Regions from separate parts of the Homo sapiens genome. Here region 1 is linked to region 2. The links come from fine-mapping of genetic effects on gene expression. A gene starts in region 2. The other region holds a variant in brackets. All regions are shown on one strand. Distances are from middle to middle.

Region 1 (9,218 bases), 47 kb before region 2:
TTAGTGCGCATGCTTGAGTCCACTCACCCAACTCCTGAGATCTTACTAGGAAGCTGATCACCAGTTTCAGGTGTTTTCTATTTATTGGGAAACTGCCTGGCCCTGGCTTCAACCAATGATTATTTTAGAGAGACAATTAACAACTGCCTGACCATCACCTGATGGTTGCCTGACATTCCTCATTGTGGGGAGGGTGGCCTTCCCTGCCTCATGTCTGTCTAACTACCTACTGTAACAGAAGGATGAGGCCTCGGGGAGAAACTGCCAAAAGCGGTAAGAGTTATGGGCAGCCTTATGTATGCCCTTCCTGCAAAATGTGGTAGGCCCCAGGAGTCAGAGCCACAGAACACACCAAGCTCTTAGAACCAAGGATTCCAACCACCAACCGCCTCCTAGGTTAACTGACTCTAACCTAACCTGCGACATACACCTCTGACAAACTGCACAGACTTCATGCAACAAGAACATTCATTTTGGGGCTCACAGGCCCAAAGAGAGCTTTAAATCAAACCCAGCTGGGCGTTCCAGGCTTTCAAGTGGGGAGGTTGCTTGCCTCCATTTTCTGTATCTATTTCCATCTATCCATTACGCCCTGGTCTGGCTTTTCAGTATCCCCTTCTCTAGGTGAAGGCTGTGTGGCAAGACCACCCTTAGTAGCTCCTTTTCCTGCCTACTAACTTCAGTCAGACCTGGGCCAGGTATTGGGCCATGAACTCCAGGACCTGGGGAAGTGCCTTTTTAAAAAAGCTTTATACTAATGGAGATCCACACAGGAAGGTCCAGATGATTATGGTTGGATTTTTTCTGGGGTGAATGAGTCGGGAGTGAGTGGAATACAGTGGATTGCCTTAGCATCCATTTCCTCCCCACTTCATTTTCACTGTGTTAGCCATTCCCAACACTTTCAAAGTTCAAACCAACAGGGTGAGCTTTATGGATTTGCCAGCAAATGTTTTCCAAATTGAGTCTCCAAGAATTTGTTTCTTTCTTATCAAAATTGAAAAGGGGAAAAAAAAGTGTTGCTGATCCCTGGATTTGTCTTGTCCTGTGTTTTGAGCATCTGAAGTAGAATTTGGACGAGGACCTGGAAGGAAGGAGGTAGAGTTTACAGAGGAAATGGGGTATGTTGGAGAAATCATATTCCAACAGGAACAAGATCCAGTCTTGGGGCAAAGCCAGGGCCCATTTGGGCTCAATGACTCTCGAAGCATTTCAGTTCAGCACATGTTTAACAGGGCATTTTTCCTTGAATTTTTAAACTTGTGTATTTTGAAGGAAATTGAAGCCGCATGGCCCTCATTCATTTACATTGAACTCACCAAAATCTTGTTTTGTAATGATTCTTTGATGTCCAAAGAGCATTGTGATCCTGTTTCATGATTTTATTTTTTCCCCCCTTTGAGAATTAGCAAATTCTTTTTTGCCAGCAGTAAAGCCACTCCAGTTCCAAGCTGTTCACTCCCTGGTCCAAAGTGTTCTCCTCCTAGGGAGGCCACCCTAAACAAAACCCAGCAGTTTCAAGATGCCACTCTGATGCTTGGCAAATTGTGCTTGTCTTTCTAGTTCCATGACTATGTCAGGCGGATAAGAGGCAAAGCTGGGATGTCCGTAAGAATCTCACTGACCGCTTCATGTTGGTTGACTTATTTTCTTCATTTTAACTTATAATGGAAAACTACAAACAATATAAAAGGAGAGAAAAGATTATAATAAAACTCCATGTGGCCTATACCCATCTTCAGCAATTGTGAATTCAAGGCCATCTTATCGATATCTCCTTTAACTGTTTTTGAAGCACATCTCAGATGATAATGTCATTTCATCTGCAAGAATTTCAGCACCTATCTCTAAAGATAGATTCTTAAGAAATGTGAGCACAATACTAATATCACACCAAAAACAACCATAATTCTTTAATAACAAATATCTAGTTTGTGTGAATCATGAGCTAAATACAATCTACACGTTGCAATTAGTTGCCACATCTCTTAAGTTTCTTTCAACCTCCTCCTCCTCTTCTCCGTTCTTCATTCTCCGCCGATACAAAGGAGCTCTTGAAGTAAATTCTGAGGAATATAGCTTTGGCAAATTCCAAATACTGGGCTAGTAACTGAAAAAGAGAAAAATAGAACAATGGTTTTAATTTACTGTCCAAGTTGAAAGAAATGTAAGAAAGCAAAGGTCCAAAACATTGAGCATTGAAGTCTATGAATGTAACTACAATTTTACCCAAGATGAGTGTCTTTTATGACCTTGTTGCCCAGAAGCTTTAAGGGGAGAACTTATTTTTTTTACTTTTATTTTAGATTTGGGGGGTACATGTCAAGGTTTGTTACATAGGTAAATACATGTCATGGGGGTTTGCACATATTATTTCATCACATAGGTATTAAACCCAGTACCCAATAGTTATCCTTTCTGTTCCTCTCCCTCCTCCTACCCTCCACCTTCAAGTAGACCCCAGTGTCGGTCATTTCCTTCTGTGTGTTCAGAAGTTCTTACCATTCAGCTCCCACTTAGATATGCAGCATTTGGTTTTCTGTTCCTGCATTAGTTTGCTAAGGATAGTAGCCTCCAGCTCCGTCCATGTTCCTGTGAAAGACATGATCTTGTTCTTTTTTATGGCTGCATAGTATTCCATGGTATATCTATACCACATTTTCATTACCCAGACTGTCATTGATGGGCATTTAGTTTGATTCCATATCTTTGCTATTGTGAATACTGCTGCAAAGAACATTTGCGTGCATATGTCTTTATAGTAGAATGAATTATATTCCTCTGGGTTTATACCCAGTAATGGGATTGCTGGGTGGGATGGTAGTTCTTCTTTTAGCTCTTTGAGGAATTGCCATACTGCTTTCCAGAATGGTTGATTTAATTTACACTCCTGCCAACAGTGTATAAGTATTCTAATGGGAGAACTTTAAGAGACTGGAGAAATATCTCCACAGGGCAATAATCTTGCAACTTCTTGATCACAGACCTATATCAATCAATAAATTTCTCCATTGCTTGTCTTATGTATAGTTATCTATATAAAATTATATACATATACTACTACATTAATACATCCATGATAAAACAGGCACAAAAACATTGTTAAAGAATAGAAAAAATATACCTAAGAGTTCTATGACAATCTGCCCACTTTCAGGGCTCATTGGTAAAACAACTTCTTCAAAGTAAATGGAGGAAAATTGCTCACTGCCAGTCTGTGGAGTTGGTCTTGGAAGGAATGGGGCAGGAAATGGTCTACTTCTGCAGGCCAAATAAAACTTGGCAGGCCAAGGAAGCAGACATCCTTTTCTCATAGTCATATTTCCCCCGACTTTTTTTTTTTTTCAACCATCACTCCTTCTGTGTGCTCATGTGGCCCCACGCCCTTCCAGCTTTCTCTGAGGCCCACCACCCCCAACCACACCTGCTTTCATTACCACCAAGATTGGAACTGGAGGATCCAGGTTTATGAAACTTGAAATGTTCAGAATTTGAGTCCTCTTTTTAAAAAGGAAGGTAAAATTGTGAATTCACAACTGGTAGGTCCC[T/CT]GTCAGGTTCTTGGAAAGGCACATGCATGCCAGGACCCCCGAACCATATTCATCAGCCTTACAGTCATCATCCCCCTCCATGGGAGCTCTGAGGTACCAAATTCACCTTCCTTTCTTTCTGACTCCTTCTTCTTATTCTCTCATATTTTCCTGTAAAGCCATCTCTGGGAATTCTGGTGCCCTTCTAAGCCCACTTCTCCCATGTTTAACTCTTGCATACCCAGAGCTGGAGCTGTCTTCCTGGTTGCCCCATGAGCCAAGAATGTACCTGTGAGCCCTTCCCGACTTTCTTCCTTTGTTAGCAGCTCTATCCAGAACAGTAGGGGAGGGAGAGGTCAGGGACCCCAGAAACAAGTCCACTTGTCATCCCAAGGACTGTAATCCAGTAGCTCTCTGCTGAAGGTGAGATGACCTAGTGATTCAAGGCACATGCTCTGCAGTCAGACTGACCCCAGTTCCTATATAGTCTCCTCTAGCTGGGCAAACTTGGGCAGGTTACTTACCTTCTCTGAGCTTTTCTCACCTATAAATGGGAATAACACTTACCTCACAGGCTGTTGTGAGATTATGTAAAGCATTTAATATAGTGCCTGGTACATAGGAAACCCTTAACTTGTGGATTTTATCATGAGTAATGGAGGGAGTTAGAATATATTTCATCAATTCTAAGACATACTTCTTAATGTCTCCTGTAAATAGATTCCATCTTAGAATTGATAACGCCATGCAAAGATAATTTGCAGTGTCTATCTTTCTTGGTTATCTGTAAAAATAATGGTGCGCCTCACAATAGACATAGTCTTCGATTTGATATAATTTGGTAACAACTAACTTTATCCACAGTAAGCACAGGTGGACTGAGATCAAGAAACTGGAGTTGCTGTAACCATACAGTCTCTTCCTCCCTCTCACTGAAGAGGCAGGGAAATGGCTGACTTGAGCTGAGAAAGGGGTAACTAGCTTAGGGGAAATTCCATGGAGAGAGGCCTGAGCTACTTGTCAGTGGCTGAGGCCTCGCCTTCCACACAGCTCTGCCTCCACAAGTGGCTCGGTCTTTACCACATCTGCCAGTCTCTTGACTCTGCCCCCGACTCCCTCCCCAGCCTTCATTCCTCAGCTATTTAGCTCCTTGCTGCCCTCACACTGCAGCTCCTCTTTCCTATTTTCCTCCTTCCCCAGTTTGAAGAGGAAGACTGAATCCAGCTTGTTGCTTGGCTGGTGGTGTCTGTGGCCCAGAACCATAAATTTTTGAGAGCCGAAGGAGAGCTTGGAGATGATTTAGTCTAATCCCCCTATTTTATAGATGAAGAAACTAAGGCCTAATAATTTACCCAAATGACTCAGCCCTGCCAGTAACAAGCTATGTGACCTTGAACAAGTTATGACATTTTTTTGGAAATAAGAGTAAAGCATTCATCGTTTTATGATATGTGTCCTGAGGAAGCAATAAAATTGGAGCTAGTGGTTAAAATTTTAAACTACCAGCTCTAGGCAAAGCAATGACATAGAGGTGACACAGTGTGGCAAGTGACCCTGCACAGCACCCATCATGAATGCAGCATCCTCTGATGGAGTCTGACCACCTGGGCCTGCTCAGAATGGTAACATGGGATTTCCTCGACCAATTTTGAACACGTGCAGCCTGGGTCCATTTGACAGCAATAAGGCTTTATGTCTGAATATGCTCTTCCAGGGATTTTTATCTAATTCTAAGAGTTTCATATACAAAGGATGGCAGCAGAGAGGCAGGGCAGAGTTCAGTCATGAAACATTAACAAGCTTTAGCTTGTATTGATTAAAAATGTGGCCTCTGGCCCAGTGCAGTGGCTCATGCCTGTAATCTCAGTACTTTGGGAGGCTGAGGTGGGTGGATCACTTGAGGTCAGGAGTTTGAGACCAGCCTGGCCAACATGGTGAAACCCTGTCTTTACTAAAAATACAAAAATTATCTGGGCATGGTGAGGTGCACTGTACTACCAGCTACTCAGGAGGTTGAGGCGGGAGAATTGCTTGAACCTGCGAGGCAGAGGTTGTAGTGAGCTGAGATAGCACCATTGTACTCCAGCCTGGGCGACAGAGTAAGACCCTGTCTCAAAAAAAAAAAAAAAAAAAAAAATGTGGCCTCTGAAGTCATTCAAATCTGAGTACAAATCCTGGCTCATCACTGACTAGCTGTGTAACTTCAGCTAAGCTTCAAGCCTCTCATCCTTAAATCAGGTTTTAATGATGGCACCTACCTCATGGGGGTAAGAATTAAATGCAATACACAGGAAGCATTAGATGCCTGGAACATTTTAAGTGCACTATAAACATCAGAGATGAGAAATTAATGGTGATGAGAAATAAATGATCTCCTAGGAACCTTGCAGCAAATGCAATGGCTCCCCATCTCACTGATGAGAAAACTCTGATTTATTGAGGCTGAGGAAACTTCCCTAGGTAATCCAGCCAGCCTGGAATGCAGGCATCCTGATTCCAGGACTGCATCGCTACTGTGTTGTCATGGAGATGGATTTGCTTGGATGTGTTAGGTTGTTTCACACCTTTATAATTCAGTAGGGCCAGGTTGGGGGGCTGAGATGGATTCTGAAACAGAAAAGTAATTGCTTTATAGATTCAACTTTTCTGGGTAATGATTGGGTAGTTTCTCTGGCCAGTTAAAATTATGCTGAAGATGGCAGTTCCTAGTTTGTATAACTATTTTCCCATTGAAGTAGGCATAAGAGAGCAGACTACAGGAGTTCTCAAAGTCATTCTTTAAAGTGATTAGTCAGAAATATTTTTGGCTGCATGAGCTAATTGATGAAAGATTACAAAGGATCAAAGGGATCTTATTGCAAACTCATCTGGAATAATCCTTCCCTCTTAGATGCTGGTGCAGTTTTTAATAGAAAAAAGCATCTGGGTACCACTCCCTCCACCTTCGTGCAATGCAAACTCTACATAGGTCTGAGGTGTCACTGGGGACGTGCTGGTCGAGTGCATTATGATCACAAGCGGGACTCCAGAGTTAGAGCCTGGCCCTGCCAATTGCTGGCTGTGTGTCTTTGGGCAATTGCCTTAACTTCTCTGTTATGATGTCATTGCATCAACCTCATGGAGCTACTGTGAGGACTGACAGACTATATCATGCACATGCAGCCCCAGTACAGTGCCTGGCGCATGGGCATTATTGATCAGTGTCAGCTACTTACGTGTCCATCTCTGCTACTGTACAAGCCAGCTTCCTTTCTTCGCCCCCTGCACACTTTTTTCTTTAGAAAAGATTCTCGCATGGTACTGGGCAGCAGTGCTGGTGTCTTACCACTCCAGGGTCTTCCCTGAAGTACCCACCTTTTGGCCTCCTTGGGTTCTACTCAGATAGCAGCTCAACCTCATCAGGAAACTAATTCCTTTAACATCACAAAAGAAATCAGCACCTCTCAGGCCGGACATGGTGGCTCACATCTGTAATCCCAGCACTTTGGGAGGCCGAAGGGGTGGATCACCTGAGTTCAGTAGTTTGAGACTAGCCTGGCCAACACAGTGAAACCCTGTCTTTACTAAAAATGCAGAAAATTAGCCAGGCATGGTGGCATGCGCCTGTAGTCCCAGCTACTCAGGAGGCTGAGGCACGAATATTGCCTGACCTGGAAGGCAGAGGCTGCAGTGAGCTGAGATGGCACCACTGCACTCCAGCCTGGGCAACAGAGTGAGACTGTCTCAAAAAAAAAAGAGAGAGAGAGAGAGAAATCAGCACCTCTCAGGTGCTTACTAATTTCTATGTACTGCTCTCAAACACCTAGATAGTCTATTTCAGAGAATTTAAAAGCCCAATGACAGCTAGGCAGGTGTGGTGTCTAGGGTTCAAAAATAGGACAGTGAAGGTGAAGAAGACTAAGATAAAGTGTTTGTTCCATGTAACTCAGGTGTTGTTTCTTCAGTTACAAAAGACCCAGAGATGAGGTCAATGTGTGTTTGGTTTTTTCTGTTTGTTTACTGTGGTGGTGTTTTTATTGTTTTGTTTTTTTGTTTGTTTTTGTTTTTTAATCCCCCATTCAGTTGCTTAGTGTCATCTAAAGAAAGCATCATGGAGATTTGTTTTTTCTTTCCCAGTTTCTTTGGACATAAGCTGCTCTCTTCTTTCTTGGCATGGTTGACAGGGTTGAATTGAGGCATATGGATCTCAAAGGAGCCCAGTGATGTGATCCTCCTTCAAATTCTTAACATTTGTTTACCATTTAGCAAAGGCAGGGAATTTCTATTAATAAAAATAGTGGTTTACAGAAACAGATTTTCCTTGTCCAGTGAAAGTAAATTAATGTTCTGAAAAAAAAAATTGAGCAAGATATTTCCTACTTCTTGGAAGTTCTCTGTTCAGCGTTTTCTTTGTATAGTGTGATTTTTTTTTCTTCTTTTCCAAGCTAGGTAGCCTCCTGGTAGATGAATTAAGAGTTTACACTTAGGTAGCATAAAGAAAACATTCATTCCTGGGAAGAGTATAATTTAATAACAAATACTTATCAAATGTGTATGACATATCAGGCATGTTCTAGGCTGTGGGGATTCTGCAGTAAACTTATATTCCAGTGAGAGGGCAGTAAATAAGCACACATGTAGTACATCAGATGGAAATAAGTGGCATGAAATAAATAAAGCAGGTAAGGAGATGCTGTTCTACATAAGCAGGCCTTGCCAAGAAAGCAGCAGAACCCAGAAAGAAGTGAGGAAGGGAGCCAGCCATGAGGGCAACTGACCTTCGGATAACAGTAGCACACAGGACAGACGTGGTGGCTCGTTTCTGTAATTATAACACTTCGGGAGGCTGAGGCAGGAGAATTGTTTGAGCTCAGGAGTTTGAGACAAGCCTGAGCAACATAGTGAGACCCTCATCTCTATTTAAAAACAAAAGTAGCAGACAGGACAATCTGACTCCAAATCCACACCTATGAAGTGCTAATGATTCCTACAGCACAGGATTCCTGAGTAGCAAGTGAGAACCACGTTAGAGGAGCTGGCACCTGGGTGGGCTCATGACCATCAGTTCCCTCTACTTCCACTTGCTTTCCCCCTGATTTATTCCTGATGGGAGAGGGGGGTTCTTACCGGGTTAAACATCACTCTGGGTCACGTGTTCCGAATACAGATTTAAATGCAATTGCAAATGCCAATGGCCTTCTCCACCTTGACCCCTATTCTTACTCAGTGTAAATTAATGTTGAATTTTCTCATTCCGAAATTGTGTTGCCTTCTAAATTACTCCAGTCTGTTCATGTCTTTGTCATGGATTTTCTCTAATTGCAGATGTACCCATGTCTAACCTATTTTTTCCCTCCTCTTGCCTCTGTCCTCTATGGCATTCCCCACCTCAGTGTCATCCATAAATTTTGTGACACTTGCTCCTAGGTCATCAGTCAGAGTATTGATTCAGATCAATGTGATGGTGATTGTTAGGACACTCTTTGAAACACCTTCCCATGGCTGGGCTTAATGCCCCCTTAGTTTGTGATTTCTGATCATTTTCAGCTTTCTTTGGACTAACAGTGAATATAAAATCCCAAGACACTGCGCATTCAGCTCAATCCACCCCCTACCCCATCCCTTTGTATTCTTAATTACAACAACAGTATTACAATCTTTAAGATAATCTCATGAATTTGTCTGTGATCATTTAAATGCAAACTGTCCTTT
Region 2 (9,218 bases):
TCGCTCGCTCTGTAGCCCAGGTTGGAGTGCAGTGGCATGATCTCAGCTCACTGCAACCTCTGCCTCCTGGGTTCAAGTGATTCTCTTGTCTCAGCCTCCCAAGTAGCTGGGATTACAGGCGTGCACCACTATGCCTGGCTAATTTTTTGTATTTTTAGTAGAGACAGGGTTTCGCCATGTTGGCCAGGCTGATCTTGAACTCCTGACCGCAGGTCATCCGCCTGCCTCGGCCTCCCAAAGTGCTAGGATTACAGGTGTGAGCCACCGCACTCAGCCAACAGATTTTCAATGTAGATGATACAGCCTTATATTGGGAGAAGATGCCATCTAGGACTTTCTTAACTAGAGAGAAGTCAATGCCTGGCTTCAAAACTTCAAAGGACAGGCTGGCTCTCTTGTTCGGGGCTAATACAGCTGGTGATTTTAAGGTGGGGTCCAGTGCTCATTTATCATTTCAAAAATCCTAGGACCCTTAAGAATTATGCTAAATCTACTCTGCCTGTGCTTTCTCCATGGAACAACAAAGACTGGATGGCAGCACATCTTTTTACAGCATAGTTTACTCAATATTTTAAGCCCACTGTTGAGGCCTATTACTCAGAAAGAAAAGTTCCTTTCAAAATATTGCTACTCATTGATAATGCATCCTAGTTACCCAAGTACTTCGATGGAGACGCAAGAGTAATGATGTTTTCATGCCTGATAACACAATATCCATTCTGCAGCCCGTGGATCAAAGAGTAATTTCTACTTTTAAGTCTCATTATTTAAGAAATAAATTTCGAAAGGCTATAGCTGCCATACATAGTGATTCCTCTGATGGATCTGGGCAAGGAAAATTGAAAACCTTCTGGAAAGGATTCACCCTTCTACATGCCATTAAGAACATTAGTGATTCATGGGAGGAGGTCAAAATATCAACATTAACAGGAGTTTGGAGGAAGTTGATTTTAATTCTCAAGGATGACTTTGAGGGGTTCAAGACTTCAGTGGAGAAAAGTAACTATAGATGTGGTGGAAATAGCAAGAGAACTAGAATTAGAAGTGGAGCTTAAAGATATGACCAAATTCCGGGAGGCTGAGGCAGGAGAATGATGTGAACCTGGGAGGCGGAGCTTGCAGTGAGCCGAGATCGCACCACTGCACTCCAGCCTGGGCAACAGAGCAAGATTCCATCTAAAAAAAAAAAAAAAGATATGACCAAATTGTTGCAATCTCATAATAAAACTTGAATGAGTGTAGAGGCATTTCTTACGGATGAGCAAATAAAGTGGTTTCTTGAGATGGAAACTACTTCTGCTGAAGATGCTGTGAACATTGTTGAAACGACAACAAAGGATTGAGAATATTACATAAACATAGTTGATAAAACAGCAAGGTTAGTAGAGGATTGACTCTAATTTTGAAAGAAGTTCTACTGAAGTTTAAATGCTATCAAACAGCATTGCATTCTACAGAGAATCTGCATAAAAATCTTTCACGAGAGTCAGTTCATGTGGCAAACTTCATTGTTGTCTTATTTTAAGAAATTGCCAAGCCACTCCCAACCTTCAGCAACCACCACTGTGATCAGTCAGCAGCCATCAACATCAAGGCAAGACTCTCTACCAGCAAAAAGATTACAACAAGCTGAAGCCTCAGATGATCGTTAAACAGCATGTTTTAGCAATAAAGTATTTTTAAATTGAGATATGTACATTTTAAAAAACATGCTATTGTACACTTGATAGACTAGAGTACAGTGTAAACATAACTCTTATAACCACAGAGAAACCAAAAGACTCACTTTCTTATAGCAGTCTGGAACCAAACCCACAATATCTCAGAGGTATGCCTGTACTATGAAGAATGAAGTATAAATTAATGACCATAGCAGCCATAGGGGACAGTGTAATCCATGTGACTTGGATGGATGTTGGGATGCTGACTGTGTGTTGGAAAATGCATTCAAGTAGCTTAGCTCAATGCCAGCATATAGTAAACTCTCAGTTAATAATTATTATTATATCCTTTAGTCCTTGAGTGAGGACATAATATTGAACAAATCATTTTCTTTCCAGACCAATACAGAAGATGAGGTGAAGGTCAGATCATAGTGTGTCCTGATTATTATTTAGGAGTCTGTACTTGATTTGGGGGTAGTGAACACACCTGGGAGCTCTTGTATAGAGTTGTTGCAGGATTGGAGCCGTGTTTCCAGAAGACAGAGATAGCAGCCATGTTCAATGAGTAGGCGGGCTGGAGTGGGAGAGATTGGATTTCCTCAGACACACTAGGAAGCTGTAATTCCAGAATGGAGTGAGGTGTTAAGACTCAGCTAGCCTGGTATCAATGTCGTCACAGCATTTGTGAGGCAACAATGCTTTCAAAATGGCCAGAGGGCCTCATTGCTTCAGCAACCTACAGTTAGCTTCCTGGCATGGTTTATCCATCCTTTTAATGTCAGTAAAGGGACTGGCGCCACTGTTTATCAACTGTGTGACCCTGGCTGGGTTGCTTAATGCTCTAAGCTTCAGCATTTCTTCATCTGAAAAGACAGAGATGGGTCTGGGCATGGTGGCTTACACCGGTAATCCTAGCACTTGGAGGCCAAAGTGAGAGGATCTCTTGAGCCCAGGAGTTTGAGACCAGCCTGGGGAACATGGTGAGACTTTGTCTCTACAAAAAATGAAATTAGTGGGACATGGTGGCACACACCTGTACTCCCAGCTTCTTGGTCTGAGATGGGAGGATTGCCTGAGCCCATGAGGTCAAGGCTGCTTTGAGCCAAGATTGTACCACTATACTCCAGCCTGGGTGACAGAGTGAGATCCTGTCCCCCCACCCCCAAAAAAAAAAAAAAAAAAGATTATTATCATCTATTTCATAGGGTTATTGTGAAGACTAAACAAAAAAATGCATTCAAATACCTTAACTCAATGTCAGCATATAACAAACTCTCAGCTAATAAGATTATATCCTTTAGTCCTTGAGTAAGGACATAATATTGAGCAAATTTTTTACTTTCCAGACCAACACAAGTTTGGCAGTTTAAAAATTCCTTTATCTCTTTAAGGTCACTAGGATCTCATTGGTGTTGCTCTAACATCATTTACAAGTGTGAATGGTATGTCCTTTCAAGCTATCAAATCAAACATTCTCTAGCGGTTTAGGTTTGGCAGTGTGGTTTTTGTAAATCTGTTGGAAAAGATGGTAACAAGGGAAGGGGAATGAGGGAGGGAAAATTGGCTTTTGTGATTATTTCCAAATCTTTCTTTGCTCAGAATGAATTTTTTTCCATTCCCTTGTTATACCAGACATGTTCTAGCAATTGCCTGTGGTATAGCCTACTTAATATAACCAAAGTAGTTTAAACATTAATTGAACTCAATCACCCGAGTACTGTTAGTACCAGGAGCTGACTGCTGAAGCCAGCTTACCCCTGCCTTATGCAGTCACTTCAGTTCAATCAGTATAGAGATTAAGGACCCACATTTACAACATCTCGGGTTTCCTCTGCCCACTAAGTTACTTTGCCCTAACATACTTAGAAATAATTTTAATTCTTTATTGTTCTTAGAGAGTTGAGTACTTATTAATTCATTAGGGAAAATGGACTAAGGTCACGGGTTTTGAAAATGCTCACAAGGAACTAGAAGCAGGCCTGCCATGTGAGATCTTTCCAGATGCCATAACGAAAGGAGACTCTTAAGGTGAGGCAGCTGTCAGCACCTACGGAAGACAGAAGCATCTCAGCCCTTTACATTCAAACTTGAGCCTCTAGCTGCTTGGAGGAGCCCCTTTTTCCACCAAGCTAGGTGTGGCTTGTTCCCATCACTTGTTGGTGTCCCCTCTGAACACTTCTATTCAAACTGAAGTGAAAAAAAAAACAATGCCAGTCGGTGCTGCTGGCTCATAGGTCCATAGAGCAAGTCCCTCATGGGCTCTGGCCTGGCTGTGAACCCCTGGCTCCAGGGATACCTGACAGAGAGTACCGGTCACAAGAACTCTGGGTTCTGACCTGGCTCTCAGGACCACCTAACTTTGGGATGTCCAGTCAGTTACTTCACTCCCCTTCTCTCAGCCTTAAACCTCCTCACTTGTAGTGTTTGACTATCACTGTCAAGCAGCAGGACAATTAGAGCAGCTGTTTTCTGTGTGGTCACAATGGGATGAAAGATGAGAAGAGAGCTAGGAGAGATTTCTTGGGGAAAGCAGATTCATCAGTTTAAAAATACAGTTTGAAAACACCAGCCTAGATGATCTTTGAATCTCCTTGCTCTGAACTCAGTGATTTCAGGCAAACCAGGGATGAACTGCTCAAGGCCACCAACTAGGCCTTGGCCTCTTCTTGATCATGAATCAGGCCTCTTCCATTTGTTAACAACAATGTCTGGTAGAAAGAACTGATGTTCCCCCAAGCCTGAAAAGCAGAGTCTTTAAGGAAGAAATTTTCAAAATTATCTGAGAGGGCAAAGTGGCAAATTGGTTCTGTTTTTTACCTCTCAATAAGCAAGCGATAAAACTGCAATTCATTCCATTAAAAATGATTCATTCACTTCTATTAATTCAGTAAACTTCAGCTGAAGGCCTCTGCATGCAGAGATATATGCAGAGAACCATGGAACAGCGAGAGTTTATGCCCTCAGGTTTTATGGGCATGATATGAGGTATATAAGAAATGAGTATAAGCTGGGAGAGGTGACTCACACCTGTAATCCCAGCACTTTGGGAGGCCGAGGTGGGTGGATCACCTGGGCTCAGGATTTCAAGACCAGCCTGGACAACATGACAAAACTCCGTCTCCACAAAAAATGTAAAAATTTGCCAGGAATGGTGGCATGTGCCTGTAGTCTTAGCTACTTGGGAGGCTGAGGTGGGAAGATCACTTGAGCTCAGGAGGCGGAGGTTGTAGTGAGACACTGCATTCCAGCCTGGGCAACAGAGTAAGACCCTGTCTCAAAAAACAGAAACAAAAACAAAAAGGTAAAAATAACAATAATGGGTTGAGTGCCATGAGAAATAGCTAGAAAGCTTTATAGGAAGTGGGCTGTTTAGAGCAAGGGAAGGAGGAATCAGGGTAGAGTTTAATTGGAAGGGCCTTGAAGGAAAAATTGGGTTTAAGCTCAGGATGAAAAACATTCCAAGCAGAGAAACTTACATTGACACAGAGGCAGGAAAATGGAAAACATGTATGAGGAAAAATGAATAGTTTAGTTTGGCTGACACTGAAGTTTGGCAAGAAGAGTAGTTGGAAAGGTCCATTGGGTGGGTGTCTTAAATAAACACTCTTTGTCCATTTCAGTCTTTCCAAGGTTGTACCACCTGATTCCAGATGGTGAAATTACCAGCATCAAGATCAATCGAGTAGATCCCAGTGAAAGCCTCTCTATTAGGCTGGTGGGAGGTAGCGAAACCCCACTGGTCCATATCATTATCCAACACATTTATCGTGATGGGGTGATCGCCAGAGACGGCCGGCTACTGCCAGGAGACATCATTCTAAAGGTAGAGACTGTGGCTGTGGGGCTGCAGCAAGGGGCTTGATATAAAAAAATGCTTCTGAGCAAACAATTGGATAGATGGATGGATGAATGAGGGAAATGGTAAAATAAATGTGGATAGTGACTTTCTATCATTTTATGACTCTCTGAGATTTGTCATTTAATTGAGATCTTTGTTTCTCTCTGTCTTGCTCTTTCACTCTCTCCCCCCTTTCTCTCTGTATATAAATATTTATCTGTCTCTATATCATTTTGTCTGTCCACTCTTCTGCCTTCTCCCTTCTAGCTTTTTCAATCTTCCTCTTCATTCCCTTTCTCCACCTCCTCTTTCTCCTTTTATCTCTTTTTTTAAAGAGCATTAATATAAAATAAAACTGGGACATATATTTTCTTAAATTGTTTTTAGAGTAGATTAATAGAACATTTTGTATTTTATTTAATCACAATCATCTACTTTTTGAAAGTCAATTTCCTATAGTCTTACGGCCCTCCCTGAAAATAAAAGTAATCTCTATGCTAATTCCACCAACCCAGAGACATACCAGGGGAGACAGGTGTTGGAATAGAATGCTTTGGGTGTTACTGTCCTCAGAGGCTTGGTTAAGGAGAAGGAGGAATTTTCAGAACAGAAAGGATAAAAAGATCTGTTTACCAGGCAGAAGTCCAATGTTTGCCAAAAGTGCCAAGAAACCCCTCCCTGCTCGTATATTTTCTATCTGACACTCAGATAACAGTTCTATCCCATCCCTTCTAGGTTGCTGAGGGACCGGCTCCTGTCACATTATGAGCTGTTTCTTTGGCAAACTGATTGGAATAAGAGGAGAAATAACCTAAAGCAGTTTTCACAGAAATACTGAAATTCCTGCTGGCCTCCGAGGTGGAGCATAAGACAGGGCCCTCGGGGCAGGCCGCAGTACAATCAGCTACACTGTGCACTGCTGCCTCCCAGTTCTAGTGGAAACTATGCTGCCTGGCAGGGTTGCATAACAAAACATTTTGATTCTTGTGGCCTTCAACTGGAGCTTACAAACAAAAGGGCTGCCAGGACTATTTAGCAGGCAACCCTGACTCCCCTGACCTTCTCTGGGCCCAGAGGTGATGGGGGAACCCGGCCCTGCCACCTCAGGTGCTCTCCTCACCTGTGCTTGGACAAAGGTGGTGAGCTTTGCCTTTGCATGAGGGAGCCTCTGGAGCTGCACCAGAGAACAGGTGATTATATCCTCAAGAAAGGCCTTTGTAAAGCCCATTCCAAGCCTTCTCTAACAATTGGCTGCAAATACAAGAAATCTTATCAAACTACAGAAATTCAAGAAAGTTATTTCTCCTCCATGGGGCCTCTTTCCTCAAACACAGAGTGCAGCAATTGCTGCGAAATTGTTTTCTTCCAACATAGGGGGCTCTGGCTGGGCCTGTGTAGCCAGAGAAATTAAAACCAGAAAGCCCCATGCAGTATCAGCCCTACACATCATTAGTGAGGCACAAATGAGAGGGCCGAGCTTAAGCTTGTTTAAGTAGCTTTATAAAGAGATCTAGCCTTTCAATAAAAGAGCCTGGAAACTTCCTTTCATATCAGTTTGTCTGAAACTGTGCAAGGATTTCTTCCTTTTGCTGAGAACATGGGCAAAAAAACCTTGCAGGGGACCACCCTGAGACCTGACACATTCCCATCCGCACACACACAGTATCACACGCACATACACTCCATCGTGCTCACACACTCAGACCCTCACTCACACACTATCACATCTACATACACACACAGTGGTGAGGACTGGAAGTTCTGGTATGAGTTGACCCAGGGAGAAAAATTCAATTGGAGATTTTTGGGAAGAAAATGTCAACTCGGCTTGAAGAGCTGTTTAATGCAATCATTTGACTGAGGCAAATGGGAAAAATGCTTTTCTTTTGCCTTTTCCTACCTTATCTTCCTTCCCTCTCTTCCTGCCAGCTAAAAAATAATGACAACAGAAATGAAGGCTAGGATTCTGGGAATAAATATGTGGGCTTGGGTAAGAACAAGGTGGAGAAAGATGGTGTCTACTCACAGAGGCCTGGAGAGGTGCTGCAGGCCACGCTTGGAGAGAACAGGGTTAGAAACGCTGTTGGAAGGTGCGGTTATTGGACACAGGATGAGGTGGGAGAGCAGAGCAGTCTTTAAAGACAGGATCCTGGCTTTTCTGTGGGCCTGGATCTTTCAGGAAGGGTTGTGGCAGGTGGAGCTGACCGCACGATTGTTCCACCTGCCCCCAGGTCAACGGGATGGACATCAGCAATGTCCCTCACAACTACGCTGTGCGTCTCCTGCGGCAGCCCTGCCAGGTGCTGTGGCTGACTGTGATGCGTGAACAGAAGTTCCGCAGCAGGAACAATGGACAGGCCCCGGATGCCTACAGACCCCGAGATGACAGCTTTCATGTGATTCTCAACAAAAGTAGCCCCGAGGAGCAGCTTGGAATAAAACTGGTGCGCAAGGTGGATGAGCCTGGGGTTTTCATCTTCAATGTGCTGGATGGCGGTGTGGCATATCGACATGGTCAGCTTGAGGAGAATGACCGTGTGTTAGCCATCAATGGACATGATCTTCGATATGGCAGCCCAGAAAGTGCGGCTCATCTGATTCAGGTGAGTCAGAGGTCATTCCAGGATCCCAGTCAGAAACCCCGGACATGAGCAAGAATGCACATCCCCCTGAACCAGGCACCCTGTCACTACCACATGTGTCATGCAGTGCCTCCCTTTCAAGGAGTCAGGATGGAAAGACCAACATTTTCAAAGCTTCTGCCCAGGTAAGAACATTACTCGGCTGGGCGTGGTGGCCCATGCCTGTAATCCCAGCACTTTGGGAGGCCGAGGCAGGTGTATCACATGAGGTCAGGAGTTCAAGGCCAGCCTGGCCAACAGGGTGAAACCCCATCTCTACTAAAAATACAAAAAATTAGCCAGGTGTGGTGGCAGGTGCCTGTAATCCTAGCTACTCAAGAGGCTGAGGCAGGAGAATCACTTGAAACTGGGAGGCGGAGGTTGCAGTGAGCTGAGATCGTGCCACTGCACTCTAGCCTGAGCAATAGAGCAAGACCCATCTTAAAAAAAAAAAAAGCTATGCCATGCATTCTCCAGGGATCCTATGGACAGAGTAAGTCTTAGTCTCCATGGCTAAGTCCAGGTGACTTCGAAAGCACTTGGAAACCCAAGTATGAACCTGAGAGGAAGCCCCCTAAGAAGAGAGGGACGCAAATTCTTGATCACTCAGGCAAGTAGAGTTCATGACTGTTCAAACTAATCCACTTTTCTGACCAGTATAATGTCATCAAGCACCTGTATGTATTTTGTTGACTTCGTCAGGGTCACTGTTGAAATTTTTTTTTCTTTAGCTTTTTTATTTTAAGATAATTATCAATTAGTATGCAATTGTAACTCACCTTCGTATTTTGAGATAATTATCAATTAATATGTAATTGTAAGAAATAATACAGAGAGATCCCATGTCTCGTTACTGTTTTTCCTAGTGTTAACATCTTGCAAAACCATAGTATGGCATCACAAGCATGCTATTGACATTAACAGTCATAACAGAAGATTTCCATCACCACAAAGATCCCTATAAAAGTTGCCTTCTATTGCCACATCCATTTCCCTCCCCGCCCCACGTCCTCCTTAACCCTTGGAAATAACTAATCTGTTTTCTATTTCTATAATTTTGAATTTCAAGAATGTTATATAAATGAAATCATATAC

Direction of the effects. Alleles are on the strand shown, and positions count from the first base shown. SD is a standard deviation of normalised expression in the study named.
For the expression in testis of the gene that starts at base 4,051 in region 2, allele CT in region 1 goes with a lower level than allele T (moderate effect, 0.47 SD a copy in GTEx).

The links.
Region 1: its variant is fine-mapped to the expression of LNX1-AS1 in testis (GTEx, PIP above 0.99).

The regions. Positions count from the first base shown.
Region 1 is chr4:53,542,249-53,551,466 of GRCh38, reverse strand. The region is part of intron 2 of LNX1 (ligand of numb-protein X 1); the gene reads left to right. Among named protein-coding and RNA genes, the nearest start is that of LNX1, 45 kb to the left of the region's middle. The variant T/CT (reference allele first, on the strand shown) is at 3,549.
Region 2 is chr4:53,494,910-53,504,127 of GRCh38, reverse strand. LNX1-AS1 (LNX1 antisense RNA 1) reads right to left here and starts at 4,051. Exons shown (of 4, transcript NR_046622.1): 1 at 4,001-4,051; 2 at 3,626-3,711; 3 at 2,152-2,280. LNX1 (ligand of numb-protein X 1) reads left to right here. Exons shown (of 11, transcript NM_001126328.3): 5 at 5,285-5,487; 6 at 7,734-8,105.